Linked DNA regions of Homo sapiens. The protein of the gene in region 3 interacts with the protein of the main gene of each other region in a pairwise test. Each region holds a gene or a part of one and is shown on either strand. Other genes may lie near its edges.

Region 1 (3,306 bases), on a different chromosome or scaffold from region 3:
GGGCTAGGGAGTGGATGTGGGGAAGAGAGATTCCTTTAGGAATAGACATTATGTCTTATCCTTTAGGATAAGACATTATAGGCAAGATTTCCCCCAAGATATTCTAATGCCAATGAACATTTTACCTTTGCCAAGTCTGTGATGTCCTGGTGCCTTAATAGAAGAGCCTAGAATGTCTTTTGGAATGTGTCTTTGATGACTAAATGACTCATTTGGCAGCAGTAAAACAAGGTCCCTTCAGGCGCTATTAGCAATTCATGCATTTCAATAATTCCCAGAGCCAATTTGTTAAATGACTCAGGATAATTTCAGATCCCCAGCAGGTTATACTCAGAACATTTTTCCCTCCGGGCTGAGTGAGCATTCCAAGAATGTAGTTAACAAGGAGCTGCATAATCAGCCAATTCTTGGCTCTGTGTTGCCTCCTTGAGTTCTGGAGTTAATTAATTGCCTAATAAACAATTAGTTTTCTCAAATATTCCTTACCTCTACCCAGAACATATTACGAGGAATCACTTATATCTGTTGCTGTTTACCGCAATCAACAAGTATTTATTGATAAAAACAAAGCCATTTCAGGTGTGACAACAGTAACATAGTTGGCAAAAAGATAAATGGGAACATGGCTCTCAGATAAGTCATAGCAGGCAAGGGAAGGTTAGAAGACAGTAGGAAGAATAACATACATATGCATAACACTTTACAAATCATGCCACATATATTTAGCTTCTTTGATCTTCACAAAAACCTTCTGAGGTGTTATTATTTCCCATTTTTTAGGGAAAAAACGGCTTTAAAGATTTCAGGCCAGGAGCAGGGGGTCAGGCCTCTAATTCCAGCACTTTGGGAGGCCAAGGTGGGCGGATCACCTGACGTCAGGAGTTCTAGACCAGACTGGCCAACATGGTGAAACCCCCTCTCCACTAAAAATACAAAAATTAGCTGGGCACGGTGGCAGGCAGCTGTAATCCCAGCTAGTCGGGAAGCTGAGGCAGAAGAATTGCTTGAATCCGGGAGGTGGAGGTTACAGTGAGCTGAGACCATGCCATTGCATCCCAGCCTGGGCTACAAGAGCAAAACTCCATCTCAAAAAAAAAAAAAAGGATTTCAGTGACTTTTCTAAGGTGAGTAGTTTTTCCCTAAATGTGCGTCACTTCCTCGATTTTCCAATAATAATACTTTGGGAGGTGGTATGTTTTGTGGATAGATTAGCACTGTGCTGCGGCATGGTCCATGGGAAGCATCTCAACCAGGCTTAGTTCAGCATTTAGTTTTTGCTCCAAGAACTCGAGAGATGTGCAGATAGGCTCAAAGGAGAGAGTGTGTTTTCCACCATGGCTCCTCTAGGTGGCAGTGAGGGCCACCACTAGAGACTAGCGTGTGTCACTATAGAGGTGTTGTGGCTTTAAGTGGTCCAGGCAAAACAGGAAAGAAGTAAAGCAACACTATTCCTTTAGAGTTAAAACAGGGTGCAGGTATACATGCATGTGCGCACATATATGTGTTTGCAGTGCGGAGGAACTGAAGAATTAATCCAACTGTGACTGCACAGTATGGAGTTTTTCATACTGCTGAGGGGTAGGACCAGAGAGAAAGAAAGACTGATATTTGGCACTTAAATACTATACTGTGTTCTCTTTGCCCATATCAGCAATGCCATCCCTAGCTTTTAGATATCCGAGTGGGTATGTTGTGCTGTCTAAGATGATCATTGTCATTCGGTGTAAAATCGATTGCTGTCTCAGGAGGAAAGATGCATGCATTCAGTGCATTAATGTCGATGGCTGTGCTGACACTGTTGTCTTTCTTTTCCAGTTAACCGCAGTGGATTCGCTGACAGAGAGAGACACAACTTGCAGTATCATGTGGGTACAGGAATTCTATATGCACTCAATAGTTAAAGGAATTCAAGACACCTTGATGCTTTCCTGGTTTAGTAGTAATCAGTGTGGCTAGAGATTACTTGCAGATTTTGGCCATTGGATACAAAATTAGAGTTCCCAATTAGAGCATTCTGTATCGGAAGATATAAAGGCCTGTGAACGAAGAGTAAGAACCATCTTTCCCATAGAATGATGGTGTTAGATGCCATCTTAAAACTTCTGAGGGTTAGAAAAGTATGTGTTCCATTTTCCCACAGACTCTGGACATCACTCCACTCCTATTTATAAAATGACAGCTCTCATCAGTTCCAAGAGTCAACTATTCGAGTCGACTCCTTCTCTGTTGGAGGCAGCTGCTTTTCTTCAGGTACTGGGGGTAGATCAGGTGCTTTCTGCCCGCACATGGCTACTGTGAAGCGACTCATGTGAAGAGCTTCTTCATACCCTGGGAGGGTGTCCAAAGAGGAGGGCAGCTGGCCCAGGGAGCTGTGGGAGTGAGCCACAGCCAGGATCCTCCGAGCTGCAGGGCCAAACACCGACTGCAGAGCTGTGAAGAAAGAAGGAACAGAGCTAAGAAACTAAGGGAAACAGGACACCCTCAGACAGCAGAGACTTACTTCACACTTAACTGTCGCTTCATTTTTTACAAGTATCCAAACTCATTGTCACTCCTTGCCCCAAATTTTATGAATATCCTTTGAAGCATGTTTACAACCCAGCTTCCTGCTCTGCTAGAAGGACCTGTTTTCTCTGGTAACCTCAAATAATCTAAAGAATGTTTCTGTATCTCTCTCTCTCTCTTTTTTTTTTTTTTTTTTTGAGACGGAGTTTTGCTCTTGTTGCCCAGGCTGGAGTGCAATGGTGGATCTTGGCTCATTGCAACCTCCGCCTCCTGGATTCAAGTGATTCTCCTGCCTCAGCCTCCCAAGTAGCTGGGATTACAGGCGCCCGCCACCATGCCCAGGTAATTTTTGTATTTTTAGTAGAGACAGGGTTTCACTATGTTGGCCAGGCTGGTCTTGAACTCCTGACCTCAGGTGATCCACCCGCCTTGGCCTCCCAAAGTGCTGGGATTACAGGAGTGAACCACCACACCCAGCCAAGAATGTTTCTGCATCCTGCAACTCAACCCTGCCCTTTCCCCTTTCAGACTTAGATCCCTTTCCCCCAGCCCCCGATACTATAGACTCCTTAGGATTATTTATTTTTACCTCATCTCTTTTCTTTTTTTTTTTTTTTTTAGACAGTGTCTCACTCTGTCACCCAGGTTGGAGTGCAGTGGCACAATCTCGGGTCGCTGCAACCTCCACCTCCCAGGTTCAAACAATTCTCTCCTGCCTCGTCCTCCCGAGTAGCTGGGATTACAGGCATGTGCCAACGTGCCTGGCTAATTTTTTTTTTTTTTTTTTTTTTTTTTTTTTTT
Region 2 (7,811 bases), on a different chromosome or scaffold from region 3:
ACTCAATAGAGCGTGGCACTGTCTCAGGATGGCAAGGTCTCAATTTAACCCTCCCTAGAGGGGCCAAGTCCACAAATAGCTCATGATGTGCAGAGTCGTCACCCATGGCTGGGTCCAGATGACAGCCAGCATGGGCTATTGACACATCTGGACCACAGCTTCTCTTTTTCCATCCAGATGCTCAAGGTCCTATCAGCACACCTGTTGCCAGCTAGCCTATGGGAAAGCCCCCAGGCCCTGCCCTTTCTGGGAAGGAGAGAGGACTCTTTCGGGGTGCAGGAAGATAACCCCCCACTGGAGTCAACTGAGGACCACAGCCTGGAGACAACCTGGGCCGAGCGCACAGCTTCCAGGACACCCCTCTGCTCTTTTGCTTGCTCCTGCTCTAGAACGTCTCATCACTCATAGGCATTGGTTCTCAACTGGGAGAGATTGGGCCCCATAACTAGAGACATTTTTGGTTATCACAAGTGGCAGGGTAGGGAGATGGGCAGTGCTGCTAGTATCTAGTAGGTAGAGACCATGGATGCTGCTGAACTTCCTCTAACGCACAATTCACTCCCCCAAGATGAAGAATTATCCAGCCCAAAATATCAATGGTGCACTGCAGAGAAGATCCAACTTCTTAGCTTGTCACTCAAAACCTTTATCACCTCCTCCCCAAACTCCAGGTTTGTCTCTATTGTGTCCCTGTAGAAGCCGAACACATACGCCATTGCTCACCTGTTTCTCCTCACCTTCCATACTGCCCACAACCAAACTCTCCCTCCTGCCAATGGCACCACCTCCAAGAAGTCTTCCATGATTGCTAGGGCCCACACATTCTTCAGCTCTGTGAGCAGGGACCGTATATCACACCACCATTTACAGGTGAGGACATCGGATGGCACGATCAACAAGAAACCTTAACAGCCCCACAGTCCCGGGTTTGCAGGGCAGCCTCTGGGCCCACACAACCTGCAAATGGATTTGACTTGGCCTGCACTGAGATTTTTTTCTACCATGCATCAATCACTAGCATTGAAACATCAGAAGATGTGACACAAAAGCCTGCTCCCTATTCTCTAAACATCAGAAGAGCGGCCACCAGGGCCCACAATCCTTCGTGGCAACAACAAGCAAAAACAGAGAACAGCTGCAGGGTGGGCCAAGCAAGGGCTCCCGGGGTCACCGCAGGCCCCATCTGCCCCCTGCTGTCACTCACATGGCCTGCCCAGACCCTAGAGGCATCAGAGTTGGAGACCTCTGAGCCAGTCAACATCACCTTACCCCTGACTTTATAAAAGGGAAACTGAGGCCCAGAGAGAGGCTTGTCTGAGCCCATACAGCCAGTTAGTGGCAGGGCTGGGGTGAGGACCCAGGGACTTGCTACCTGTGAGGCGCCCCTGCATGCCACACTGTCCTTCTAAGAATGTGCATAGTCTCAGAGCTTGAAGGCCTAAAATACAGGGTACAGGGACACTCAAAGAGTGATTTGCTTCTCTCAGCTCTTGCATTGGCAGGAGCTCGGAAGGACAACCTCTGAGTTCCTCCTCCCAAAACTAGAGTCCTTGAATCTGACAACTTGACTCCAAGGATGCTGACAGCAGGTGCCATGTCTGATGCACAACGAATAATAAAGCACTCACCTGTGCGTCAGGCGTGGTTCTGCATGCTTTGTATGTATCAACTCCCTGAGCCTCACAACAAACCCTATCAGATGGGTATGATAATTCACATCCCCATTTTTTTAAATGAGAAAACTGAGGCTCAGAGAGGTTAAGTAAATTGCCCAAGGCTGCAGAGCTGGGAAGCAGGGAAGCCAGGATTTGCATGCAGGAGTCTGCATCCAGAGGCCGTGGGCTAACCACTGAACAGCATCGCCCCCCTGAAGGCTGGGCTCTTGCCACAGCTCTGCCTGCCCTGCCTGTGACAGGAAGCAGACGCAGGCAGGTCTGAGTTTGCAGCAACCCACCGCAGCATGTGGATCTAGGCTAATTTTGAGGAAGCCCTTCCAGACTCATGAGAAAACTGTTAACCACAGGCCCTGAGTCACCCCAGGAGGAAGTCGCTTGGGTCTAGGGGAGATGAGTGTGGCCAGGAGTTTGGGAGTAGGGTGGGTCTAGGCAGGACAGTACAAGGACACTGACCCTCAGCCACCCCAGGCAGAGGGGCAGCCTTGGCCCCCGGGCACTGTGACTTGCCCAAGACCACACTGTGAGTCACCAGGAAAGGAGGAACCAGTGACAGCCGTGACTTCACAAGTTGCCCAACAAGAGCTTGGGCCGGACAAGTTACCCTAATGATTAGCACAGGTCTCAAGTTCTCTTTGGTGGGCAGAAGGCCGTGGTTTGACTGAGCTGGAAGCTGAGAGGACACGGCCCCTGCCTCCCCACTGGAGGCACAAAGGGGAGATCCCCACTTCTCATCCCCTCGAGTGGCCCAGGCTCCCTCCAGGCCCCAGGGGAAGAATCGGGGCTGTGTCTGCGGCCGACCTCACATCCCGGTCAAACAATCCCAGCCCACGTTCCTCCCAAGATCCCTGCCTTCCAAAGCACTTTCACATCTGCTGTTGGCTTTGCACACAAATAACCTTCCGGCTGCTGCTGTGCCCCATCTCACAGAGGCAGAAACGGAGCCAGCCTCGGAGTGAACGTCAGTTACATTTGCCTGGAAAGTGGATTCCAGCTCCCTTACTCCTCACTCTTGCGGCATCTCCCCAGGGTACCCCCAGCCATTTGACAGAGAAGGAAACTGAGGCCCAGAGCAGGACAGGGATTTGCCCAGGGTCCCCCAGAGAGGTGGAGAGCAGGAGTTCTTTCATTTGTGGGGCTCCGTAGATGACGGGTCACCGCAGACATTCACACTCACACAAGCACGCACGCACACACACCCGGGGCCCGCACACTCACCACATGGTAGATGGCCAGGGCGGTGGTTGCGATGCGGACATTGAAGCAGCAGCAGGTCTGGCGGACAGTGGACAAGCGGGGGTCCATGGTGCTGCCGTCCCCTCCTCTGAGACACTGAAGGGGAAAGAGCCTGGTGCCTGGAGCAGGGCAGAGAAGGGGAAGCTGCTGGCTGCCCTCCTCACTTCCTTCCTGCCCCTTAGACAGGCAGGGACAAGGTCGTCACAGCTGGGGCGGGGCAGCTGGGGAGGGGGAGTGGGGACAGGGCAGCAGCCTGCCTCAGAGCACCCCACTGCCCTCTGCCATTCCCAGGAGGGGGTTCCAGAGAGGACAGACCCTAACACGGTCATCATGCCCTTCTCTGCACCAGGGCCAGGGTTCCACCGTTTCACACAGCTTGCTTACTAGAAGAACACTACCAACTTTGGAAGCCAGGACTGTTACCAAGCCCATTTCCAGATGAGGAAACAGCTGTCCAGAGAGGTCAAGGCACTTGCCCCAAATCACACAGTAGTTAGCACTGGTGGCAGAATTCAAACCCAGATCTGTCTGGCTGCAAAAATAGCTATTGTCTAGGAGGCATTTCCTGCCTCTTCCAGGCATGCTCCTGGATTCACTCCTTTCATCCTCACCTCAATCCTTTGAGAGAGGTACTATTATGATCCCCATTTTACAGATGAAGAAACTGAGGCACAGAGAGGGGGAATGATTCGTGCAAGGTCACACAGCTAGTCAATGAAGGTGCAAGGATTTTAACTGAGGCTGACTGGTGCTAGAAGCCTCCCTGGAGCTGGTGTTCTCTCCCACTTCCTCACCCTGAGCCGCAGGGAGAAGCTTGTTCTTCCTAAGCTACGAAGAGGCGTGCAGGGCTCCAGACAAGGACGGAAGAATAACCAGGAAGCAAACCCATCAACTGTGCGCCAGGCCCTGGGCTAGGCTTCTCTTCTAGGTGGGTCAATAACTCTTCACAGCAATCTGTGAGACCCGAACCTCACTTTCAGGGCCTCAAGACCCAATCCCCATACTCACACAAAATCAGGGATTGCTTTTCCCCCTTGATCTTGCAAAAAGTTGGAATTAATAAGCCACAACTCTTAGGCAAGCTACCCTGGAATCTCTACTCCCTCCTCAGATGATAAATTATCCATATTGCAATAAAGAAAGGGAATAGGAAGTACATGCAACATTTCTGGAAGAAGCCCTGCTTCATTCCACAGCTGAGCCCCTTTGCAATGCCAAGCTTCTAGTGCAGAGCAGACAGGAACTGCCATGAAGCCCTGCCCTCCCAGGAGATCATGGAGTTAGGATTGGACACTGCTGCAGCCCATCATTTCTGCCCCAGGAGAGGTTATAGAAAGTCCCTAAGCTCCTCCCACTTGGCAGGAGTTGCTCTGTTAGACCCACAAAACTTGATTGGTGGACTTGATCAATCCATTCTCCATGTGCCAATGAGACCAAGGGGACTCTGCAAGCTTTGGGCTCCTGGGAGGCCTGGCCTATCCCTTCCCAACTTCATTTTCAAGGCTGTTCCTGTTCCTTCATAAGCCTTGCTGAGGCCTGACATCATAGAAAGGTGACACAGTGCAGTGGTTAAGAACTTTGGCTCCACAGGCCCATGGCCTGGGATCTTCTGGCTGGGTAGGCAGAAAACCAAGAGAAGTCCTCCTTTGTCTAAGAGTAGCAAGACCAGAGGAACTGGAGATCAGGAAACCAGGGGCCAGGAGGGCCCTGAGGCCATGCTGGGGAGTCTGCATTTGATTGTGCACAGAAGCCATTTGACGATTTCCTACCATAATAAATGATAGCCATTCATAACATTGTGATTTGGTGAAACCAGGACAGGTGCAAAGCCAACTCCCAAAGAGAGGGATGAAACACACTGACAGCATGTGGAATAATTGTACATGGTCTATGGGTAAACATTTCTCATTTTTTATGGTGATAAATTCATTTTAATGTGCATTATAAAAATATACATAACTAGTCCATGAATCCTGTGATTTTCCATTTATAGGAGTAATATAAAGTCTCATTTTAAAAGAAATGCATTTAAATAAAAAAGGCAGTAAGTCAATTTAAAGAACATATTAAGGAAGCCACAGCCTAGGAGGACGCAGATGTGGCAGACAGCCCTGGAGGTGGAGTAGGTGGCATCCGTTTGGGAATCCTGGGGCATGGGGAATCCCAGCTCCCCACTTAGTAGCTGTGTGGTGTCAGACAAGGCACTTGATCTCTCTGAGCTGTTGTTTTCACCTCTGCAAAACGGCGGGGCGGTTGGGGGGAACAGAAATTTGCCTGGCAGGGCTGCGGTGAAGGTGAAATGAGGTCACGTGAATGCATCTGTTTGTTTTCTCCCTTCCAGCCCGTCCCTGCTCCCCGATCTCACCCGTACTCAGGCTGCTAGGAGGAGGCAGAGCTGGGATTGAACCCCTGATCTGTCTGATTCTGAGTCCCCTCGGGCACTACCTCCCTCGCAGAAGCAGGAGTTCTGATGCAGTCATTTGTCTCTCACCGGGTCACCAGGCTCCAGCACACACTGGCCCCTTGGCAGGCACCTCAGTCACTCCCTGTGGAGTACAAGCCTGAATCACTTTATTGTCATTCCCAACAAACCCCCTGTGGAGAGGACGGCTATTATCCCAAAGGTCAGACCCTTTGGCCAAAGCCACTGTGATAGGCAGAATAGTGCCTCTCACCCCCCAAAAAAAATCCACCCTAATCTCTGGAACCTGTGCGTACATGGCCTTACATGGCAAAGAAACTTCACAGGCGCCATGAAATTCAGGATCTTGAGGTGGGTGGGGAGATTATCCTGCATTATCTGGATGGCCCTGAGGTCATCAAATGGGTCCCCATAAGTGAAGGAAGATCAGAGTCAGAGAGGGAGTGGAAGATGCCACACTCCTGGCTCTGCAGTTGGAGGAAGAACCATGAGCCAAGGAGTGCAGGCGGCATCCAGAAACTGGAAAAGGCAAGGAAATGGCTTCTCCTCTAGAGGCTCGAAAGGGAATCACTTTCATTTTAGCTCAGCGAGGCGCATTCCTGACTTCTGGCCTCCAGAACTGTAAGACAATAAATGTCTGTTGTAGTCACTGTGTTTCTGGTCTTTTATTATAGCGGCCGCAGGGAACAAATACAGCTGCTCAGTGGAAGCAACAGCTGAGCCTGGGGCCCCGTCGCTGGAGCCCAACACACTCCACCGAGACCACAGTCCCCATCTGCACAAGTGCAGCCCTTACTTCCTTGCTGTGTGACCCCAGCCAAGTCGTGAACTTCCCTGAGCCTCCGCTTCCTCCTGCGCCAAGCGGGGATAATGATAATGCCCATCTCGTTGTCTGTACATGCAGGTGGCAACACCACATAAGCTCACTATTTATATTCTGCTGTTTTCCGTTACGAATGATAAGTTTTGAGCTTCTTCAAGTTGCTTTTCATACCTTCTTTGTGGAGTGGTAGAACCCTTGAAAACTTCAGACCCTCTGAATTCATCAAGATAAGGACAAGGAAATGTTCCATGCCACCGCAGCCACGGCAGAGCAGATACAAATCTGCTTGTCAAACTGCCCTTGTCAATGTTATTTCTGACAAAGGAATCTTCTAAGACCCCCTGACTTCAGACATGGTTCCCAGATCCTAGAGAGTCATCTTTAATCCTGAAAAGGTCTGTAATTCTGGCTGGTTATCTGGCTTAATAATTTGCTGCCATGGTATATGAATATTTAAACAGACAGCTCTGTTTCCTCAAAGGCAGAATTAGTTGTAAGCTTTCTTTGTTAAGTCAGAAGAACATCACTGGAACTTCCCTCTTCACCCATAGGCCTGGAGGTAAAAATAAAACCCACGACTCTGCCAGCTTTTGTATTTAAACAAAGAGTTTGGGAGTCTTGTGTCCTTTCCATTAACCTAGATGAAGCACTTAGAAGGGGCTGGGTCACGGTAAGGACTGCACAGTGGGAAGCATTTTGATCACGATTGTCACTATGATTCTTCCTGTCCTTTAAACCCTTTCTCAGCTGAGCCTCCCCCAGCCCTAGCCAGCAGAGGAAGGCAGCAGAGAGGCACTGATCAGCTCCCGTAGACCCAAGGGGCCAGTGATCTGCTGCAAGACACACAGCTGGTCAGGAGCAGAGCCAGGACACAGGTCCTCCTTGGGGACAGCTTCGTGGGCGGCATGTGAGTGGTGGCAGCCAAGGTAGCTCCAGGGCTGTCTTCTCCCGAGGGGCTCCTGGGTGCCCCCTGCAGCTCACCCAGGCTGAAGGTCAGCTTCCTGCCAGACCACTGGCCTGTGATTCCCTTCTGGCTGCAAGCCCCACCTCACTTCTGCCTTTGAGGTTTGGGGCTGGAATGTGTAGGGCCAAAGCCAAAGGCCTGAAAAATGTGAGAAACGGCAGAGCATTCTCTCCTGTCTCCTGCCCCGAACCCAGCACGGTCACCAGGGGTCAGGGCCTACACGTGCAACCCACAGGGTCCCTCCCCTACTCCCCTGCCTGTGGAAGGGGCCCAGGCCTTGAAGTCAGCCTGGAGGGTCAGCCTGGCAAGGACAGCCCACAGGCCTGTGGCCTGGGGACAACCAGACCTTCCAATGACCAGCTGCTGAGTCCAGTGGGCAGGCAGGGGACCCCAACGGTCTGCCAGACACTCCAAGGAGGCCTCCCCTCAGCCAGGCAGTCCAGGGGTCCCTGGCTGCACCCAGGGGCACAATGACACCATATCCTAGTCTGCTGCTGCCACAGGCACTGCAGGCTGAAGGCTCCAGGGAGATGGGACCAGCAGGCAGAAGGAGCACTGGCTGCAAAGTCTGCATAGCCGAGCCAGCAGCCTCCTGCTGAATAACAGCTCTGGGCACACCCCAGGACGGAGCATTTTAGATCATGGGTGCAGCCGTACTATCCATGGGGAGCTGGAAAACCCGGCTCCCTCCTG
Region 3 (7,033 bases):
GCATGTGACATGTGGACCCAGTCACACCACTCACTGGCTCTGGGACCCTGGGCTCACTGGTTTTCTTTCTTCATCTCAGTGAGTGTCCTCATCTCCCCATAACAGGCACAATGCCAAACATCTCTCTCCCAAAGTTGCTCTACAGAACCCTGGGATTACAGGATGTACCTAGCACATTAGCAGACATTCAATAAACAACAGTTTCCCTTCCCTCTGTTCTATCCTGAAAAGACATGTATGCTCTTCCATGTCCCAAAAAGCTTCTACTGGCAGCCAGACTATACTATAGAAGAAAAGAAACAAAGAACTAGAAAAGTTGTTGAGAAAACGTTTTCTCTTCTGAATTTAAATGAAAGAAAAATGCATGAGGACCAGTACATACAGCAGAGTGATACAATTTAATTTGTTTTTTATTTGGACTATTTTTTGCCTTTTCTCTTGGAGAATGATAACCCTGGGAAACTAAGAATCACTGCCTTCATGACTTCACTTTTAATGTGAACGATGTAATAGTGAGACATCAGTATATAAACACTGAAGCCTTACTACAACAGTGCCCCTCTAACTGTGCAACAGGATTCTATAATTGTCCAGCAAGTTTCACAAGGCCATTCTAACACTTCCGTAAAGCGCAACCTCATCCTTCAACCTCCCGCTCTTGGATGGAAGCCAAGAAGGACATATATTATGTTGCAAGATATTCATTCATATATGTTAAGTATGAGACACCAAATGGGTATTTAAAAAGCAATTTTCTCCTTCAATCAGAATTATCTTCTACCACATGATTATGGTTTCCTTTTATTACTTTATTATTAAAAACAGTATTAATCTATTGGTCTTGGTCATTAGAAAACACTAAAGTGCTATCCATTGTGGAAGTATGGCAGCAATAAAGTATTGTGAAATGCTCTACTCTATGCATTACACACTGCCCACCACCAAAAAAATATCTAAAGTAACTAATAGGATACTAATTTTAAGCAAAGAGAGTCTACCTTATAGATGTCTTTAAATATTTATTATTCTAAGGTACTTATAAAAACAAGATACCAAGGAAAAAAGCATTTACAAAAATACAACATGAAGCTTTAAACTTTAATTATTCAAGTTTTTATTACTTCAGAAACAAGACTACAGCACATGCATCAAACCCTTAAAACCAAATGGTGGTGCTCATCATCCAAATAACTTAAAATAACACTTAGATGAGATGGGTTGAAGAAAGAACAAAATTAAGGGGTTAAATGCTTCATCCCTAAGGGAAACAGGATTGTTTTTCAGAATTAAATGTTAAAAGTTTACAGGACAGATAGAATGAGACAGAAGGGAGTACATACGTTATGAGCCCATTTATATTGCATTCTAGAACAGAGATAAATAATTTATGGCAACAGAAAGCAGATCAGTGGTAGCCTGAGGCTGGGGGTGGGGAATGGACTGCAAGAGGACACGAGAGACTCTGGAGGGTGATGGAAATGTTCCACAGCTGGATTGGCAGTGGTCATGTGACTGTACGCATTTGCCTAAACACATCAAGTTGTTCAATTCAAACGGGTCCAGTGTATTATACCTAAATTATATCTCAATAAATATATTTTCTTTTTTAAAAAGGTTTATTGCTCAGACAACGTCCATACTCATTTACCCTATTTCCTTTCTAAGCATTACAGAAACATCCTACACATACCTGAAGCCGTGCCACAGCATGGGGGTACCCACCATGCAGAAGAAAAGATGCTTGCAATCACATCAGGTGGAAAGAGCGTCACATTTCTCTGAATCTGAAGTAAATTTAACACTAATGCAAGAAATACTCCAATAAAAAATAGCACTACTCCTCGAATCATCAAGTTCACACTCTGGCTAGTGACAGATGAAATATATGGGCCACACTTTTTGGGCCCAGGTGACTCTGTCTCTCCTTCTGCCATGGTTTCATAGGTTCAGAAAGCCGTTAAAAAAAAAAAAATGGAAAGGCTTCCCAGCTGAAAAGCTCAACTGTCTGTGAATCAAAGACTGACGCTTCAACGGTACCACATCTTGTCCTAAAGTAGGACCTACCAGAAATCCTGCAAGAGATAAGAAAAAAGAAATTAATGTGTATCTAATACATGATTATTGTAATTTTACTGATTTCAATACTAGTTAATTTAAATGGACAAATAAGAAAATGACAAGCTTGTATACTAATTTATTCAAATTACTAACAGTTATTTATTGAATAAGAAAAAGTTTTAAAAGTATTTTTATATGCAAGACGTAATAAAAAATAAAGTACTACCCTTACATTTCCTAGGACAGAAAACATGACCTAAGAGACCTGAAGGTTAGAATCATAGTAGAAACAGCTTGCTCCATCTCTGAGAAAAGCAGAACAGGTAATCTGACACTTCCACTAGAATCTGGAGGGTAAAACCCTGCTCTCTGTTTCTTCTCCCTAAATCTCTAAGCCTATCAGTTACAATACTGTATTTTATATTTTACAGATAAGCATATTCTGACTGAAGACGCTGTATATTTTGCAATAAAATGTTACTTGCTTACAAGGACAACCTCCACAGAAGAACAAAATAACCCGCTTTAATGTTTATTATTTGGTTATCCGCACAAAAACATTCTACAAAACCAGACCACCACGCACACACCTACATATACACCAAACACAGAAACCAGACCTGACTCACTCTCCCCAGGGGCACAACTGTATCCCACTCCTGTCTCAACAGTCTGCCCTTGTTGCAATCACAGAAGGGATTGTAAGAAAGCTGGAGGACGAAGCAAAAGAAAGGAAGTGAAGAAAATGAAGAACAATCTAATGGCTAGATTCTAAGGAGTTTTATCCACTTGGTCCCTGACTCCTAAAACCTAAAACTTTGCTACTACAATCAGTCTAGGTACTTGTTCATTCCTCTAACCAAAGTGATCTTTCCTTTTGGGGCTTTCTATGTGCTGTTTTAAGCACCTGACATGTGGTAATTCATTTAATCCTCACAATAACCTTCAGAGGTAAGTGCAATTATTATGTACATTTTATAGGTGACGCAAAAAAGCAAAGAAAGGTTAAGTCACTTGACCTAGTTCACATCTCCAGTAAGAGGCCAAGCTGGGATTCAAAACCATGCAGTCTGACTCCAAAGCCCTCATTCTTACCATGATGTTCAGTCTCCCAAACTGTCACATATTTGATATGTTTTCTATGAATACTAACAGTTTTTAAATGGGAAAAATACTACACAGGTAATTTACTTTTATCCCATCCAACAATATATCTTTGGCACTTTCATAAATCGGTACAGAAATGATATTTCCTTCAATCCAAAAGCAGTTTATTTTAAAAAGTGTAGCACTTATAATGACTACTTTCTAATTAAAGGTATAGTTGCTTTATGGATTGTAAATGTTTTATGAAGGTCTTATTCACTATTATATTAATATCACTGTGCCTATGCACCCAGAAAAGTTCCTGCTTAGCCCACAGTGGGAGCTCCACATAATCATATTTGCTTAATTAAATTGGGTTAACTCTTTCTGAATCAAACCATATAGGGTAAAGTAGGCCTTTTTGAGAGCAAACCTAGCTCCTAATCATCACATAAAATTTATACATTTCCTCTGAGTTTTCCAGTATCAAACAACCTTTGAATGAATTTTGGAACAAAGCCCTCATGTAAACCGCAGAGAATGGGGCTGAATTACAAATAACTAGTATGAAAATGAGAATATCTGTAAGTACTAGTAACCTCCACAACCTGTCAGTTCCATGTGATAAACACTTAGACAACGGGCCTTTTTACTGGGGCTATGCCACATCAAAGCTCTGTGTTCAACATTCAAGAGGAAATTCTGTTCCCAAGCTAGTCCTCACTGACCTACTTAGTCTATAATGTAATTGAACTCTATGGCTTAAAGGACTAAAAAAACTAATCCACAGTATAGCTAATTCATGGGAAAACATACTCTAAATACCAACTGAAAATGCCCTGAAACATCTCCTCCTGACCTGATCCTGCAGACCATTCCTTGCTGTGGAATCCAGGCATATGAGCATGCCATGCATTCTGGTTGCTTTCAGCAAGGTTCAGTAGCTACAGAACTCTCCATCATCATCATCATCATCATCTGGTTGCTTTTGGCAAGGTTCAGTAGCTACAGAACTCTCCTTCATCATCATCATCATCTGGTTGCTTTTGGCAAGGTTCAGTAGCTACAGAACTCTCCTTCATCATCATCATCATCATCATCATCATCATCATCTGGTTGCTTTTGGCAAGGTTCAGTAGCTACAGAACTCTCCTCCTCCTCCTCCTCATCATCATCATCATCTGGTTGCTTTTAGCAAGGTTCAGTAGCTACAGAACTCTCCTCCTCCTCCTCCTCCTCCTCATCATCATCATCATCTGGTTGCTTTCAGCAAGGTTCAGTAGCTACAGAACTCTCCATCATCATCATCATCATCATCATCATCATCATCATCATCTGGTTGCTTTTGGCAAGGTTCAGTAGCTACAGAACTCTCCTCCTCCTCCTCCTCCTCCTCCTCCTCCTCATCATCATCATCATCATCTGGTTGCTTTTAGCAAGGTTCAGTAGCTACAGAACTCTCCTCCTCCTCCTCCTCCTCCTCATCATCATCATCATCTGGTTGCTTTCAGCAAGGTTCAGTAGCTACAGAACTCTCCTTCATCATCATCAACATCATCATCTGGTTGCTTTTGGCAAGGTTCAGTAGCTACAGAACTCTCCTTCATCATCATCATCATCTGGTTGCTCTTGGCAAGGTTCAGTAGCTACAGAACTCTCCTCCTCCTCCTCCTCCTCCTCCTCATCATCATCATCTGGTTGCTTTTAGCAAGGTTCAGTAGCTACAGAACTCTCCTCCTCCTCCTCCTCCTCCTCATCATCATCATCATCTGGTTGCTTTCAGCAAGGTTCAGTAGCTACAGAACTCTCCATCATCATCATCATCATCATCATCATCATCATCATCATCTGGTTGCTTTTGGCAAGGTTCAGTAGCTACAGAACTCTCCTTCATCATCATCATCATCATCATCTGGTTGCTTTTGGCAAGGTTCAGTAGCTACAGAACTCTCCTTCATCATCATCATCATCATCATCATCATCTGGTTGCTTTTGGCAAGGTTCAGTAGCTACAGAACTCTCCTCCTCCTCCTCCTCCTCCTCCTCATCATCATCATCTGGTTGCTTTCAGCAAGGTTCAGTAGCTACAGAACTCTCCATCATCATCATCATCATCATCATCATCATCATCATCATCTGGTTGCTTTTGGCAAGGTTCAGTAGCTACAGAACTCTCCTTCATCATCATCATCATCATCATCTGGTTGCTTTTGGCAAGGTTCAGTAGCTACAGAACTCTCCTTCATCATCATCATCATCATCATCATCTGGTTGCTTTTGGCAAGGTTCAGTAGCTACAGAACTCTCCTCCTCCTCCTCCTCCTCCTCCTCATCATCATCATCTGGTTGCTTTTAGCAAGGTTCAGTAGCTACAGAACTCTCCTCCTCCTCCTCCTCCTCATCATCATCATAATCTGGTTGCTTTTAGCAAGGTTCAGTAGCTACAGAACTCTCCTCGTCCTCATCATCATCATCATCATCATCATCTGGTTGCTTTTAGCAAGGTTCAGTAGCTACAGAACTCTCCTCCTCATCATCATCATCATTATTCTTTATAGGGCACCCATTTATGGAAGGCCTACTCCCTGCCAGACATATAGTAACTCTACTCTTCAAAACAAACATAAAGGTAGACATTATCATCCTCATTTTACAGATGAGGCTACCAAGTCAAAGAGATTCAGCAATTTGCTTATGGTCACATGACATGCAGTATCAAAACTGAAATTCCACTTCAGGTCTGATTCCAAAACCCATCCTCTTGCCTCTATACCTTGAATTCCATTCCATCTCAACTGCTCAGACTTCTTTTTCGGCAGATGGTTCTATATAAAAGTGTTTGGTTACTGAAAAGATGGTTAGATGTTGAAATACCATCTCAACTATAATACACTCTCAGATAGTAAGCCAAAACAAGCAGGTGACTATACAATTGCACAAAGATGATGAGAATAAATGTAAAATCACCTTGAAATTTTCTTTAATAGTACTAGATCAAGGTGTGAAAATGTTTTAAAGTAAAAAGAAAAAATAGCAAACTAACACTCTGTATAAGAACATTAGTTGACTCTTTACTTCCCCAGATCCCAGTAGACACAGCACGTTGCCCTCACGTGCTGCTAACAGCTGCTAGAAGATGGGCATACTTTGAGTAACCCACATTGAGACAGCGTATCATTTGTTTCTGTTTGTGATTTTTCCAAAAGGGAATTAATGGAAAGGGGTATTTTATGTTTAATAGTATTTTTAAAAAGGAAAATAACTTCAGTTTAAAAAAGCTATTTCAGTCATGCTAGCCCCCATCTCACACTGACCAGCATTTGTCAAAGGGCACTGATATTTTAGGCAGGACAATTATTTGCTGTGTGAGACTGTTCTAAGCATTGCAAAACATTTAGCATCCCTGGCTCCCACCCACTAAATGCCCCCTCCCCTATTTGTGATAACCAAAACTGTCCCCACAATGAGAGCCACTGATTGCTACAGACTTCATTCTATTTCAAGACAGCTAGAGACTTTCTGTTTATTTATGTTTTCTACCACAGCTGCTTATTTAACCTTTCCTGGCAGTGCTTGTTTAGTTTTCTACTTCGCCCCAAAAGTTTTCCTTAAAAATAACACATTTGCTTGACATTTATTTGAATGAGATTCAAAAAGCTAATTTTGTAACTACATCATAATACAATAGTATATAATTACTGGTGACAAAAAATAAAAGCTTTAAGAAATAGCAGGGAACTGGGAAATCATCTATTCCAAGGGGTATGAGACCCCCATGCGAAACAAAACAAAAAAGTTGTATATATATGCATTTTTTTCTGGGATGAAAGTTCCATAATTTATATAAAGTACTCAAAAAAGTCCATGATCCAAACAAAGTAAAGAATCA
Region 4 (7,748 bases), on a different chromosome or scaffold from region 3:
CTAAAAACAGGATGCTTTCCAGGGAGAGGGGAAAATACCACCAGCAGTGGTGTCAGCTTCAAGACTCACTGGCCAATCAAGCCCTTCCTCAATTACATCCTTCCGTTGAGACGGGATCAGAAATGGGGGAAAAAAAAAGTACACGGTTATGAGTAGTCTCTGGTTTATCTGCAGCTCTGTGACACAAGACGTAATTTTTTTTTTTTTGAGATGGAGTCTCACGTTAGCCCAGGCTGAGTGCAGTGGCACCATCTCTGCTCACTGCAATCTCCGCCTCCTGGGTTCAAGCAATTCTCCCGCCTTAGCCTCCCAAAGTGCTGGGATTACAGGCAAGTCAAATGTGTAAGAATCTTGAGCCGGGTGAGGTGGCTCACGCCTGTATTCCCAGCCATTGCACTCCAGCCTGGGCAACAAGAGCGAAACTCCGTCTCAAAAAAACAAACAAACTTACAATAACTAACATGTATGCAGCCTCTCTATCCAGCCATAGAGTACCCAAGCTGTAACAGACACTGGGGATCTACCATTTGATGCTTTTTTAAATTTTCTTTTGACAGAGAGTCTCCCTATGTGGCCCAGGCTGGAGTGCCATGGTGTGATCTCCGCTCAGTGCAACCTCTGCCTCCCAGATTCAAGCAGTTCTCCTGCCTCAGCCTCCCAAGTAGCTGGGATTACAGACACACGCCACCACGACCGGCTAATTTTTGCATTTTTAAAAGAGACTGGTTTTGCCATGTTGGCCAGGCTCGTCTCACAACTCCTGACCTCAGGTGATCCATCTCCCTCGGCCTCCCAAAGTGCTAGGATTACAAATGTGAGCCACCATGCCCAGCCTAATGCTCCTTTTTTTGAGACAGGGTCTCACTCTGTCTCCCAGGCTAGAGTGCAGTGGCATGATCAGGGTTCACTGCAGCCTCAACCCCTCCAAGCTCAGGTAGGCCTCTGAACTCAGCCTCCTGCGTAGCTAGGACCAGAGGCACATGCCACCATGCCCGGTTAATTTTTTGTATTTTTGGTAGAGACAGGGTTTTACCATGTTACCCAGTCTGGTCTAGCCCAGTCTAGTCTCCTGAGCTCAAGCAATCCTCCTGCCTCAGCCTCCCAAAGTGCTAGGATTACAGGCACGAGTCAAATGTGTGAGAATCTTAGTCTTAACATCCTTAAGACAATTAAAAAAAAAAAAAGGGCCAGGCATAGGGGCTCACGTCTGTAATCCCAGCACCTTGGGAGGCTGAGGCAGGAGTATTTAAACACTCAAGCCGGGCGGGGTGGGTCACACCTGTAATCCCAGCACTTTGGGAGGCTGAGGCGGGTGGATCGCCTGAGGTCAGGAGTTCGAGACTAGCTTGGCCAACATGGTGAAACCCCATCTCTACTAAAAATACAAAAAATTAGCTGGGCCTCGTGGTAGGCGCCTGTAATCCCAGCTACTAGGAGGCTGAGGCAGGAGAACCGTTTGAACCCAGGAGGCCGAGGTTGCAGTTAGCCGAGACGGCGCCATTGCACTCCAGCCTGGGCAACAAGAGCGAAGCTCTGTTTCAAAAAAAAACAAAAAGAAACAAAAAACACCCAAACTGTGCCATTCCTGAGAACTTATTCCAAAGGCGTGCCCAAATTAAGTAGAAATCGGGGTGAGTCTTAACTCCAGGGAGGCTACTAACTTGAGAGGGGCTTTCACCTGGCCAGAAACCTCAGGGATACATTTTGCAGAGTGAACAGAACAAACTGAGGTTCAGAGAGATGGAGTGGCCCTTCCGAGGCCACAGGGCTGGAGAGTGGAAAGAGGTTTTGGCTTGGGTTCCATAAAGGGCCCTTGGCTTCTAGCTAGACAACCCTGGCATTTCTGTGCCTCCTGGGACTGAAATCTCTGTTTCTCCACCTGGAAGATGAGGCCTCCTGCTCCCAGGGGCAGACAGATGTTAAGAACTTCCCGGCGCTAGTGCCCACCAGACTGCGCTCCTCCTAATGCGGGGACATGAGGCTGACACCAATGCTCCCTGGGAAGCTCGGGCTCCCAGACCACAGTAAACACTGCGTTAAAACAGCAACAAAAATGTTACAATAGTAAGAGCTACAACAGTAACATCAACAACCACGTCCTACCCCACGAGTGGCTCATTCTAGCAAAATTGACAATGAAGGGCTTGAAAGCGATCGCATTTAGGAGGCCAGAGCCCAGACGACGACCAGCTCCGAACCCCACAAGCCTTGTCGTGACCGCGCCCCGCAGGCGGGGGGCCCCCTCGCGGGTCACCCGCAGGGGCGCACCTCCAATTTACCAAACAAGGTCGCATGCCCCAGCCGGGCTCTAGTCCCCGCCCAGTCTGGGGCGCACCTGTGCAGGGCGCGTGGGCAAGCGAGGGCGGGCGGCTGCGCGCCGCTCCGTGTGCACGTTCCTGTTCCGGACTTTCTGGGCGTCCCGTTACGAAGCCTTTCCTCGGCCCTTCCTCAGGTGCGCAGCGCCTCCGGGAGCCGGTCCCGGCGGCACCGGGCACGACGCCATCTTCCCTCTTTTAAGGGCACCGGGGCTGTGCGGCCGCGGCCGTGGGCTGGCGTTGCCGCGCTACGGTCTGGCCGGGTCCGCACGACCCCAGAGTTCGGAGCCGGGTGCCCGGAAGCCGCACTGGAGGACTGTGCGGCGGCGATGGGGCGTCCAGCCGTCGCGGCGAGACGCAGAGGGACCACCCCATTGCACAGGCGCGGAGACTGAGGCCCGCAGGGGCCGCGCCTGGCACGATCGCCCGTCGGGGACCTGGAGCCCCGGACAGAGAGGGTACGTTTCGGAGCCGGAGTCCCGAGACGTCGCCCCGCCAGCGACTTGCTGGAGCGGTAAAACCTGGGCACGGCTCCCCACACTTCCAGCCGCTCGGCACCCGGGCCGCGGCCTGGGCGCTAACCGCCGGGCTCGAGCTGGGCGGAGCAGCGGGCGGCAGCAGGGTCGGGGGCACTCACCTGGCGGCGGCGATGCTGGCAGCGTCTGTAAGCCACCCGGGAGGCTTCGTGTCTGCGGCCCGGCTGCCGGCGCGGGACCTAATAGGCCCGGGCGCCCCGCCCCTCCCGCCCCGCCCGGGTCCCGCCCCTCCCCGGGAGCGGCCTCTCGCACCCCGAGCGCGGAATCCCGGACTGGGGTCTGAATGGCATTGGCAACAGAACCGCTACAAGTGCAGCCCGTTGGCTTGTTTACAGCCTCTCTGCCCCCTGCTGTTCTGCAAGCTTGTTTTGTCCCGTGCGTCGCTGTTTCCCCTGCGCCCAGCACGGGCGTGCACTCAGGGGTTTCCATCAATATCGGGGGGATCGATCCATTGACAGAATCTGGCCCTTTACACGGATGGCCTCCGTTCGAGCTCAAAGTACTCCTCGGTGCTTTTTTTCACGATCATTTTACCCACGTGGAAACCGAGGCTCCAAGAGGACGAAATGACTTAAATGACAGCGTGAAGCCAGCGTTCAAAGACGTGTGCTCCTTAGGCTGGCAGCTTTGGGATTTAGGTGTTTTAAAGCCTATTTCACAAATATGAAAACCGAGGTTCACATTTGGTTAGCAGCAGCATCCAGTGATCCATACCCGAAGCCAGGGGGCTGCCCCTCCACTGCCGCCCGTCCGCAGCCTTCCAGCTGCATGACACACCCACTGCCTTCCCCCTCCCGTCGGGGCTCCGGGTCCGCGAGAGGCGGGCGGGACTGGGAGGGATTGGGGGCAGGGGGCTCACGTGCAGACCTGGTGAGACGGACCCCACAGCGCCTGGCGGGGCGAACAGAGAAATCAGAAAGCTTCCAGGCGGGGTGGGCGGGTGGGCAGCCTGCTACGCGGGGATGGGTAGGACCTAACTCCAGCCCTGGGGTATATTGGGGGTGGGAGAAGGCAGAGCGCTCCTGGAATAACAAAGTAACAATTGTCCTGGGCACGGCAAAGCTTGTTTACTTCTGTCTTGATCCCCTCAGAGATTAGGGGAGGGGCAGGGACAGGGGTTCCCCTCCCCCAGCTCTGTCGTTTGCTACCTGTTGGGTACCCTCACTCTGTTCTTCCCACCTCTAGGGTAATTACTTCCCCTTCAATGTTCTCATCTGTGAAATGGACAACAGCACCTACCAAGAGCTGGGCTGTTGGGAGGAACAGAGGAGGTAAAGTGTGATAAAGTCTTCAGAGCCCCTCCCGCCTTCCGGGCTCTGGACCTTCTTTGCTTTTGTGGGGTTTTTTTGTTTGTTTTTGTTTTTGTTTTTTTGAGACAGAGTCTAGCCCTGTTGCCCAGGCTGGAGTGCAGTGGCACAATCTTGGCTCACTGCAACGTCTGTCTCCCAGGTTGAAGCAATCCTCCCGCCTCAGCCCCCCTAGTAGCTGGATTACAGGCGTGTGCCACCATGCCCGGCTAGTTTTTGTATTTTTAGTAGAGACGGGGTTTTGCCATATTGGCCAGGCTGGTCTTGAACTCCTGACACCAGGTGATCCACCGGCCTCGGGCTCCCAAAGTGCTGGGATTACAGGCGTGAGCCACCACTCCCGGCCCTGTAGTCTTTTCTTCTAGGGCCTCCAAACTACATCAACCCCTACAAAGCAGCTCGCCCTGACTGTGGCTAACAGCCACAGAGTGCCTTACAGTCAGGAGCAGGGAACCCTTCATAATGGGGGCTTCCCTCTGAATGCATTTTGCAGATGAAAAAATTGAGACTCAGGGAGGTAAAGCAATGACACGGGGTCTCATGGGTCCGAAAGACCTGATATATGTGAGATGCTTGCAGAGGGGTCTTAAGGCTGGAGGCACAGTGCCAGGTATGTAGGAGATGTTCAGTAAACATTAGCAGAAAAGATGGAGAAAGAAGGACCGTTTGGGGACACTGGATGATTCAAGGGCAGAGTGGGTGCAAATACAGTACTTATTTACTTTGCAAAATCCCAAGACAATATGCTGATCAAAAGGAGGAAGAGATGGCTGGGCATGGTGGCTCACGCCTATAACCCCAGCACTTTGGGAGGCCAAGGCAGGTGGATCACCTGAGGTCAGGTGTTTGAGACCAGCCTGGCCAACATGACGAAACTCCATCTCTACTAAAAATTAAAAAACTAGGCCAGGCGCGGTGGCTTGCGCCTGTAATCTCAGCACTTTGGGAGGACAAGGCAGGCGGCTCATCTGAGGTCAGGAGTTTGAGACCAGCCTGACCAACATGGAGAAACCCCATCTCTACTAAAAATACAAAATTAGCTGGGCGGGGTGGCACATGCCTGTAATCCCAGCTACTCGAGAAGGTTGAGGCAGGAGAATTAGGGAGGCAGAGGTTGCAGTGAGCTGAGACCACGCCATTATACTCCAGCCTGGGCAACAAGAGTGAAACTCTGTCTCAAAAAAAAAAAAAAAAAAGTAGCGGGTGTGATGGCACTCACCTGTAGTCCCAGCTACTTGGGAGGCTGAGGCAGAGAATTGCTTGAACCTGGGAGGCCTTGATTGCAGTGAGCCAAGATCGTGCCACTGCACTCCAGCCTGGGCAACACAGCAAGATTCTTCTGTCTAAAAAAAAAAAAAAGCTCACGAAGGAAACTGTCTTGGAGATGCATGATCGCATGATCTATTGAATGAAATGGCATGCTGTATAAATCACTGTGTCCATTAGAATCCTATATTCTTTAAAAATCCATGTATGGCTGGGCAAGGTGGCAGGTGCCTGTAATCCCAGCACTTTGGGAGGCCGAGGCAGGCAGATCACAAGGTCAGGAGATCGAGACCATCCTGACTAACACAGTGAAACCCCATCTCTACTAAAAATACAAAAAAATTTAGCTGGGTGTGGTGGTGGACGCCTGTAGTCCCAGCTGCTCAGGGGGCTGAGGCAGGAGAATGGCGTGAACCCGGGAGGCGGAGCTTGCAGTGAGCCGAGATTGTGCCACTGCACTCCAGCCTGGGCAACACAGCGAGACTCTGTCTCAAGAAAAAAAAAAAAAAATCCATGTGTGAAAGTCTGGAAGGAAATATAGCACAGCAAAATGGGAATAGTAGTCATCTCTGGGCATCATGAAGTTCATTACCAGGCACACCTAATCTATGGCGCTAGAGGTGACATTGGCGGCTCCCTCTCCAGGGTGAAGATGGGTATTGGCTGGGAAGGGGCATTATGGAACTTTCTGGGGTGACACAGATGGTGGCTGCAGGGGTGCATATGTATGCAAACAGCTGAATGCTTAGGAACTGTGCATGTTTTGGTATGTCAATTAAACTCAATACTAATACAGGTGTATTGAGTTTTTGTTTGTTTGTTTTTGTTTTGTTTTGTTTTTGAGATGGAGTCTCACTCTGTCACCCAGGCTGCAGTGCAGTGATGCCATCTCAGCTCACTGCAACCTCCGCCTCCTGTGTTCAAGAGATTCTCCTGTCTCAGCCTCCAGGGTAGCTGGGACTACAGGCATGCACCACCACGCCCGGCTAATGTTTTTTTTTTTTTTTTTTTTTTCTGTATTTTTAGTGGAGACGGGATTTCACCCTGTTGGCCAGACTGGTCTTGAACTCCTGACCTCAGGGAATCTGCCCACCTCGGCCTCCCAAAGTGCTGGGATTACAGGTGTGAGCCACCACGCCTGGTCCTATTAGTTTGTTTTTTTGTTTTTGTTTTTGTTTTTGTTTGGAGACAGCGTCTCACTTTGTCATCCAAGTTGGAGTGCAGTGCAGTGGCGTGATCTTGGCTCACTGCAACCCCTGCCTCCTGGGCTCAAGTGATTCTTGTGCCTCAGCTTCCTGAGTAGCTGGGATTATAGGCGTGCATCACCACACCCAGCTAATTTTTGTATTTTTAGTAGAGACAGGGTTTCACCATGTTGGCCAGGCTGGCCTGGAACTCCTGGGCTCAAGGGATCCGCCCACCTTGGCCTCCCAAAGTGCTGGGATTACAGGTATGAGCCACCGCTCCCAGCCGTGGTTTAGTTTTCTGCCTTGTGTTTTCATGTATTTTCCGGATTGTCTAGATAAACGTGCAAAAACATTATCTTTTTTTAGAAGAGGAAGAAAACTATGTTTGGTCTTAACTGAAGCCAGAGCCAAGCCAGAGACAATGCCAAATGCCTACCTTCAAGACAGTGGCAATGCAGGGACAGACAGAAAGTGACTGTGGCGTCAAGCAAGGGAAAACTAAGCGCCAGGCTCCCACAGAGGACACAAATATATCAGGGAAAGCTTCATGGAGGAGGAGATATTTGAGGGGAATTCAAAGAAGGGACTGGATTCCAACCAGAATAGAAAGGTGAATGTGGCCTAATTATCCTGTCGGTACTGGGGAGCTATGGAAGGACACTGAGCTGGAAAGGAACAAGAGGTTAAGGAATTGGAATCTAGCAGCCATGCGGAGGGGTATTGAAGGGAAAATAATGCCCATTGTCTCCGAGAGTGCCCAGGGCTCCTAAATAGAGGTATTGCAGCCTCCGTCCAACTGATTGGCGTACCCAGGCTGCCCCCCGACCCACAGCTGGCCAGCAGTACATCCGTCAGCTGGCATTCTGCACACCCAGCCTGGACTCAGCTCCGAAGCTGTGAGGCCCTCCATGGACAGAGCTGTTGTACATCCTCTGAAAACTTTTTTTTTTTTTTTTAAACTGAGTCTCGCATTGCCGCCCCGGCTAGAGTGCAATGGCACAATCTTGGCTCATTGCAACCTCCACCTCCCAGGTTCTAGCGATTCTCCTGCCTCAGCCTCCCAAGTAGCTGGGATTACAAGCGCCTGCCACCAAGCCTGGCTAATTTTTTGTAGAGATGGGGTTTCACCACGTTGGC

The links.
Region 1: the proteins of INSIG2 (region 3) and TMEM52B interact in binary tests that used the Homo sapiens proteins (3 or more experiments, as listed by UniProt).
Region 2: the proteins of INSIG2 (region 3) and LAPTM5 interact in binary tests that used the Homo sapiens proteins (3 or more experiments, as listed by UniProt).
Region 4: the proteins of INSIG2 (region 3) and BIK interact in binary tests that used the Homo sapiens proteins (3 or more experiments, as listed by UniProt).

The regions. Positions count from the first base shown.
Region 1 is NC_000012.12:10,189,020-10,192,325, reverse strand, and holds the end of TMEM52B (transmembrane protein 52B isoform 2 precursor), read right to left. Parts: intron 2,431-3,306; coding exon 2,186-2,430; 3' UTR 522-2,185; downstream 1-521.
Region 2 is NC_000001.11:30,754,768-30,762,578, forward strand, and holds the start of LAPTM5 (lysosomal-associated transmembrane protein 5), read right to left. Parts: upstream 3,008-7,811; 5' UTR 2,979-3,007; coding exon 2,892-2,978; intron 1-2,891. UniProt on the Homo sapiens protein: May have a special functional role during embryogenesis and in adult hematopoietic cells.
Region 3 is NC_000002.12:118,091,458-118,098,490, reverse strand, and holds part of INSIG2 (insulin-induced gene 2 protein), read right to left. Parts: intron 2,073-7,033; 5' UTR 1,935-2,072; coding exon 1,691-1,934; intron 1-1,690. UniProt on the Homo sapiens protein: Oxysterol-binding protein that mediates feedback control of cholesterol synthesis by controlling both endoplasmic reticulum to Golgi transport of SCAP and degradation of HMGCR.
Region 4 is NC_000022.11:43,106,008-43,113,755, reverse strand, and holds the start of BIK (bcl-2-interacting killer), read right to left. Parts: upstream 3,007-7,748; 5' UTR 2,953-3,006; intron 1-2,952.